Linked DNA regions of Homo sapiens. The protein of the gene in region 1 interacts with the protein of each later gene in a pairwise test. Each region holds a gene or a part of one and is shown in the gene's direction. Other genes may lie near its edges.

Region 1 (4,648 bases):
AATGAACTCGAGATGGCTCTGTAAGCCTGACTGGCAATAACGCACGGTACTGTTCTTGAAATACCTAATGGCTTGAAATTCTAGTCTGTTTGTGAAAGATGGGTACTATCATGATTTCCTCTTCTATTCCTATATTCTTTTCTGGATTTTTTTTAATAATTAGTGATATAAGCATTGTTTTTATTGCAGCCATATCCACTTATCCATCTTAAGATCTGTAGCTGGGATTTTCTGACTTGTAATGAGCAGGGGGATTGCTTTTTCACTTTGTGACACTCTTTAGAGCTTTAATGCTTCACAGTATATGGCCTGGTCTCATCCTTGCGTGTTCCACTTGAGGCCCTTTGGTGTCTTGCCCCATTCTTGTGTTTATAAAATGTTTGAGTATTTCTGATGAGTGATGCTTGCCTTAGTCTCATGAATTCAGATCCCTTCATGTCCTTTAAGTATGCTCCTCAATGTGTAAACAGGAACAACTTTATGATTTGAAAGCTTTAAAGGAGATTCTTCTCCCACCCCCAACTTTATTTGCAATGGGATTTTTCCTAGGAGAGTTATGAAAAGTTGAAGGCTTCTAAGGGAATACTGTAAACATGACCCACTTATATTTATCACAGTGAAAGGCAAAATTATTCACTCAGAAGTAATATAAATTACCTCTTTAAAAAGTAACCAGAATTTGTCCTTTTTGGTTTTATACATTCACAAACATATACATTTTTCTTGAGTCTCAAGGTATTTTATATTTTTAGTCAGAAAAAATAATTTTTCATTTCAGTTTTCCATAAACTGTTACACAAAATATAAACCTAACGTGTATTTTTCAGGACTGCGTGATCGTGCACTTTGTGTGGTAAGAGGTTTGAGTAGTCCTATATGTCACCTAGGGAACAGACATTATAGCTTACTAGCAAATGAATATTCATGCCTTGTTTTTGATACCTCCTGGCAGCTTCCATGTCACCACTTGTTCATACCTGCCCAGAGCTAGTTTTAGACATGGCAAAATAGAAATCATCTGTAATTTATTAGCTAACAATGTAAAACCATCTTTTAAAGCCTTCAGACTGTCAAGACGACATGAGCAGCTCACCATATGATAAAAATACATAAATTTGACATTCCCTCTTCCATAAACCTTTGTTTGTAGATTTAATGTTGAACAGTACTTTTCCATAAAGTTCTAGTCACTTCTGTTGGCCTGAGCCACCAGATTATGATGTTGCCAGAATTCACTCAATTTGAATAAAGATGAACAGTATTTGTTTTCTTGTTTCCATGAATTATATCAGTATTCTAAAACATCGCTTCAGAAAGAGAACTGTTTATTTCTGCAGGCTTCCTGTCCTTTTGTGGTATGGTTTTTTGGCCTTATTTTCACTGGCTTTTCCTTCTCCAAACTTTGAGGCGTGATTTCATTCATTGAAGAATCAATACATATTTTGTTTCAAAATGTTTGAAACAAAAGACATAGATGGTAGACTTTTATTAAAACATATATGGATGTGGAAAGCACATATATTAATGCAGTCATCCCTTTTCAGGTGGGAAGAGAGCAAACCAGTTGATTTTTTAATTCATCCTTAGTACACAGAGAATATACTTTTCCTCAAGTAATATACCTGTTTGAAGCTTTAAGAGAGATGTTTTTGGTAACTATTTCATTTTCCCAAAGAAGTTTGCTATTCTTGTGTTAATTGTGTATACCTGATTGTTTTTTCCTGGAGGTTTTTGTTGTTGTTGTTTAGTTTTGGGTTTTTTTTTTTTTAAGAGGGGCAAGTGTTTTCTGAAATGATGCATATTTTAAGACTCGATTCATATTGCCACTGTGCTATCCTTGAACTACCAATAATTTTTATAAAATATCTAGTTTTTACTACTTTTATATAAACTTTACTTTCCAGATGAAGAGCTGAGCCTGATTCAAATGGTTTTTCTGCTTTATACTTCTTTTTAGTTCATTGGTTTTTATAGTAGAGGTTTTCTATTTTTTTTTTTTTTTTTTTTACTACATTTATATGTCTGATACATATACGGCTTTGGAGACAATCAAGTAACAACTGAAAATGTGAAAGTAACCATATCTGACAAAATTCCCTTGAATTTTTATCCTTTGCTTGCAACATTTAAGACTCAAAGTCACTGGTATATTGGATTAAGTTTTTTCCTGTTAATGCAATTATAGAAATACATCGGAGACACAACAAATGTGGCCATTACAGGTTTCATAAAATTACACTGACTTGGCTGTTACTTGATCTTAGGAAACAGCACAGTTTAAGATATTGTGAATTCTGACTTATACTTTATTAAATGCTGTAAATCTAAATAGATCCTGTTGGATGTGATGGGTCTAGTCCAGTTTATTTAAGTTCATGTTTCACTGTTTGCACTTTGCATTGAACAATGGGTTTATTCGCTGATGTAAACGGTTCGAGTGAAGAATTAATGCAGTAAGTATGACAACACATACACACTTGCCTCTCCCCATCTCCAGAAGAGGGGAGCAGAGTCCGAGCTTATCTAAATATGAATGTGGCCACAAAGCTGTGGAAGGTGACAAAGCTTAAACACCTTTGCCCTGGCTCTGCATTGTCACCTAGAGAGCAAGAGGTCTATAGAAACATCATGTCACATGAAACGATTCTCTGCTTTTTGGTTCTGAACTTGAAGTCCCTAAACTGCAAAATCTAAGAGTTGGGTGGTTATTAAAATGCTTTTAAAGTCAACTGTGGCACCAATTCTAATGTAATCCAACTTGTGACTGTTTTTTTTTGTTTTGTTTTGTTTTTGTGTGTGTGTGTGTGGCACTGGGAAAAGTGGAAACAAACATGTATTGAAATACATATTGGAAATAAAAATGGTTTGAGCGTCAGTGATATTCTCCCAGAATGTACTTATCTTACCTCGGCATGTACTGTAGTCACTCAGTATTTGTATATGTTGCTAGAATTTAGATTGTAAAATAGTGAAATTTTAATGTGTTCATTTGTTTTTAATGTATATATGTCTTGCTCAGATTATTTGGTTTAAATAAAACAACCTTGAGGTTTGTAGCTTTTCCTTATACTATAAAATGCCAGATTCTTCTATTTTAACCTCACTAATTTATGGCCAATATTGTGCTTCCAGCAACATTTGAAAATGACACTGTTAGTTTACTTTGACTTTTTCTATGACCAGCGCCATCCTTTTTTTAAAAAAATAATTTCAACTTTTATTTTAGATTCTAAGGGTACATGTGCAGAGTGCAGGTTGTTACATGGGTATATTGTGTGATACTGAGGTTTGTGGTATGAATGATCCCATCATCCAGGTTGTGAGCATAGTACCCAATACATAGTCTTTCAGCCCTTGCCCTCCCCGCTCCCCTCGCTCCCCCCGCCGCAGTCCTCAGTGTCTATCGTTCCCATCTTTATGTCCTTGTGTACCCACAGCACCATTCTTTTTGAAGCCTGATTTACTTTATATCAATTGAACTTCAGCAGCCACACTGCAGCCTATGGCTGTGTGGTATGAGGGGAAAATCACACTGATTGATTACATGTGATTCCAGTTCTGGTACCTTCCTTTTGCACCTCAAAAAGTTATAAGAGGAATCAAAACTGTGGGACTCTGCAAACATATGCTGGTATTCATGTCTAATCTGGGTTAGATCAACTACTACTGTTCTCCCCTTTATTCTGCTTTATAAGTACCGCATTCTGTTTCTGAGCCAAATCTAATGTATTTCACCCTTTATACACCCTCTTTAGAGAGGCAGGTTGGTTGTCAGTAATCAAGCCATGGTTTTCCAGTGTTTCCCAATTGTATTTATTGGTCAAAAGAGAGTAATTCTTTCTTCAGCTCATACCTCTTCTGACAACTTTTAGTTCCATCCTTATAACCTCTATTTTTCTGTTTCTTCACCTCTCATTCCCCTACCTCCAGATGGCCTTTGGTTACATTTATTAAAATATAGGAAGGAAGACTAGCTCACCACATTTGTAGGATTGACTGGCTTGCATTGGATCAGATTCTCTGGTGCACCCTAGGTAGCCAGGCAAGCTTTCCATCTGAAGATTAGCTTTAATCATGGGAAAATGAGATATTCTTTTTGTACCATTTAAATCCAAAAATCCCAACTTCACTTTTTATATTTTTTAGAAGACAGCCTCACTCTGTCACCCAGGCTGAAGTGCAGTGGCGCGATCTTGGCTCACTGCAACCTCTGCCTCCCGGGCTCAAGCAATTCTCGTGCCTCAGCCTCCCGAGTACCTGGGACTACAGCGCATACCACCACGCCCAGCTAATTATTTTGTATTTTAGTAGAGATGAGGTTTCACCATGTTGGCCAGGCTGGTCTTGAACTCCTGAGTTCAGGCAATCCAGCTGCCTCCCTCGGCCTCCCAAAGTGTTTGTTAGGATTACAGGTGTGAGCCACCCTGCCCGGCCTCAGCTTGACTTTTCTTAAGTGTTTACTTGTTCTGTTATCTTCTTTACCTTTCCTAATTTACTTCAAGTGGAAAACCTTCAAAATTTAATGAATAAGTAAGTCAGGCAAAAAAAAATAATGTTCAAGATTTTTTTTTCCTTCTTGAGCTTGCCTAGCTTAGCTTCACTGTATAAAGTTAAACTTCATTTCTTTAAAATAATACAAAGCCATCAG
Region 2 (3,500 bases), on another chromosome or scaffold:
CTTATGTGTTAGGTGAGTCTCCTGAAGGCAGCAGAGGGTTGGTGAGTTCTTATCCATTCTGTGGTTTTGTGTCTTTTAAGTGGATCATTTAGGCCATTTACATTCAATGTTAGTATTGGAATGTGAGGTACCATTGCATTCATCATGCTCTTTGTTGCCTGTCTACTTTGGTTATGTTTTTGCTTTTTAATTTGTATTTTTGTTTTATAGGTCCTTTGTGATTTATGCTTTAAAGAGGTTCTGTTTTGATGTGTTTCCAGGATTTGTTTCAAGATTTAGAGCTTCTTTTAGCAGTTGTTGTAGTGGTGTTTTGGTAATGGCAAATTCTCTCAGCATTTGTTTGTCTGAAAACGACTATATCCTTCCTCCATATATGATGCTTAGTTTTGCTAGATATGAAATTCTTGGCTGATAATTGTTTTGTTTGAGGAGGCTGAAGATAGGTCCGCAGTCTCTTCTAGGTTGTAGGGTTTCTGCTGAGAAATCTGCTGCTAATCTGATAGCTTTTCCTTTATAGATTACCTGGTGCTTTTGTCTCACAGCTCTTAAGAGCCTTTTCTTCGTCTTAACTTTGGATAACCTGATGACAATGTGCCTAGGCAAAGATCTTTTTGTGATGAATTTCCCAGGTGTTCTTTGTGCTTCTTATATTTGGCTGTCTAGGTCTCTCACAAGGTCAGGAAAGTTTTCCTTGATCATTCCTCCAAATATGTTTTCCAGGCTTTTAGAATTCTCTTCTTCCTCAGGTACGCCAGTTATTCTTAGGCTTGGTCGTTTAACATAAACCCAGACTTCTTGGAGGCTTTGCTCATATTTTCTTTTTTTTTTTCTTTGTCTTTGTTGGATTGGGTTAATAATTCAAAGACCTTGTCTTTGAGCTCTGAATTTCTTTCTTCCACTTGTTAAATTCAATTGCTGAGATTTCCCAGAGTATTTCACATTTCTAAAAGTGTGTCCAAAGTTTCCTGAATTTTTGACTGTTTTTTCTTTAAGCTATCTATTTCCATGAATATTTCTCCCTTCACTTCTTGTATCATTTTTTGGACTTCCTTTGCATTGGGCTTCACATTTTTCTGGTCCCTCCCTGATTAGCTTAATAACTAATCTCTTGAATTCTTTTTCAGGTGAATCAGGGATTTCTTCTTGGTTTGGATCCATTACTGGTGAACTAGTGTGATTTTGGGGGGTATTGAAGATCCTTGTTTCGTCATATTACCAGGGCTGGTTTTCTGGTTCCTTCTCATTTGCATAGGCTCTGTCAGAGTGAAGGTCTAGGGCTGAAGGCTGTTCAGATTCTTTTGTCCTACAGGGTGTTCCCCTGATGTAGTATTCTTCCCCTTTTCCTATGGATGTGGCTTCCTGTGAGCCAAACTGCAGTGATTGTTGTCTCTCTTCTGGATCTAGCCACCCAGCGAATTTACCTGGCTCTGGGCTGGTACTCTGGATTGTCTGCACAGAGTACTGTCATGTGGAATGTCTATGGGTCTCTCAGCCATGGATATCAGTGCCTGTTCTGGTGGAGGTGGCAGAGGGTGCAGTGGACTCTGTGAGGGTCTTTAGCTTTGGTGGTTTAATGGTCTATTTTTGTGCTGGTTGGCCCCCTGCCAGGAGGTGACACTTTCCAAAAAGCAGCAGCTGTAGTAGTATGGAGAGGGACCAGTGTTGGGTGGAGCCCTAGAACTCCCAAGATTATATGCCCTTTGTCTTCCACCAGAGTGGATAGGGAAGGACCATCAGATAGGGGCAGGGCTAGGCATGTATGAGCTCAGACTCTCCTTGGGTGGGTCTTGCTGTTGCTGCTGTGAGGGGTAAAGGTGAGATTCCCAAGTTACTGGAGTTGTGCACTTAGGAAGATTATGGCTGCTTCTGCTGGGTCATGCAGGTTGTCAGGGAAGTGGGGGAAAGCTGGCAGTTACAGGCCTCACCCAGCTCCCACACAAACCAAATGGCCAGTCTCACTCCCTCTGTGTACCCCCCAGCAGCCCCAAGTCTGTTTCTAGGTGGAGGGCAAGATGGGTTTGAAAACTTGCCCCAGGCTATCCTCCTCCCCAGCTTCCCCCGGTGGCTGCATCTTTCCTAACAGTAGTACAGTATCAGAGCCCAGAAGCTGCCCTTGGTACTTGGGGGCTCCACTTTTCTCACATGTGTAGATTCAGGGAATCACCACTGCATCAAGGCACAGGACTGCCACTCACCACAAAGAGCTCCCTCGTGCTACCCTTTCAGGGTGCACCCCCTACCCTGCCCTCCCTCACCCCCTCCTGAACAAACCCCTGAAAACCACAAATTTCATTCCTACAATTTTGTTATTTCCAGAAAGTTATATAAATACATGAAATCACACAGTATATGGGTCTTTGAGGTTGGCTTCTTCCACTCAGCCTAATGCTCTTGAGCACCATCCAAGCTGTGGCCTATGTCAATAGCTCCTTCCTTCTTACTGCTAAGTAGCGTTCCGTGGTCTGGCTTTGCCGTCATTTGTTTAACCATCCACCTATTGAGAAACAGTTTGCCTGTTTCCAGTTCTTGGCCGTTCCAAATAAAGCTGCTGTGAAAACTTGTGTGCAGGCTTTTGTGTGGGGGTAATGCTCAGTTCTCCAGGGAAAATGCCCCCGTATGATTGCTGGGTGGTGTAGTAAGTGTACGCTTTATTAAGAAACTGACAAACTATTTTCCAGAGTGGCTGGAGAATAACTTCTGTGTTTTACATCCCCACTAGTGATTGATGAAACTTTATCAGTAAAGTTCATGTTTTATGTAGTTTACTGGTGAATTTAGATTTCTTATTTAAAGACAATATTAATTTTGAAACATAATCTCCAAGTGCAAAAAAGGTTTGAATGGGTGAATTTTAAGATGAGAACAGACATCCATTTATTTTCTCTCTCCTTCATGTAGCAAGTGTGTGTGCCTTGGGGGAGCCTGGGGTGGGTGCGGCTCACACCCGTGCCCTGCTCTGGAGCCAGCTGTCTGCGGGTGCTGGGGGCTGACCATGCCATTACCTGTATGATACGAGGTGACTCATCAGCTTTTTTATAAGCTGAATTTTATAAGCCGAAGGGTGGAAGCTGCAAGCTCACCCAGGGTGACTGTGAACAAGGAAATGCTTTATGACTATGACTCCAATAAATTATTTTAACTGTCAACCTTGTCACTAGTTGACTTATGAGATTTTTGACTAGTTTAAAACAAACAGCTAAGATTTCTAGAGGTTCAGAAAGTTAAAAGCGGAGACCATGCAAACTCTTTGTTTGATGTTAGATGTTTTCCTTTCAGCTGCTTAACTCACCAGCACATTAGTCAGAGATAAATCCTCTGAGCCCTTAGAAGTTCATCCTGAGCTCTTCCAGTTCGGCAAGTTCATTGTATGTCTTACCCAAATGGCCAGTACCACCTTCATTCCAACCTGCTGCTGCTTCTACTCTGTTTATATGGAAGAGCCTGTCTGAAGCTCACTGAAGCCAGGGGCTTCCCGGGAGCCCCCTAGGGCCAACTCTCTG

The links. The genes of interacting proteins can lie anywhere in the genome.
Region 2: the proteins of DCBLD2 (region 1) and MALL interact in binary tests that used the Homo sapiens proteins (3 or more experiments, as listed by UniProt).

The regions. Positions count from the first base shown.
Region 1 is NC_000003.12:98,794,396-98,799,043, reverse strand, and holds the end of DCBLD2 (discoidin, CUB and LCCL domain-containing protein 2 precursor), read left to right. Parts: 3' UTR 1-3,103; downstream 3,104-4,648.
Region 2 is NC_000002.12:110,105,823-110,109,322, reverse strand, and holds part of MALL (MAL-like protein), read left to right. Parts: intron 1-3,500.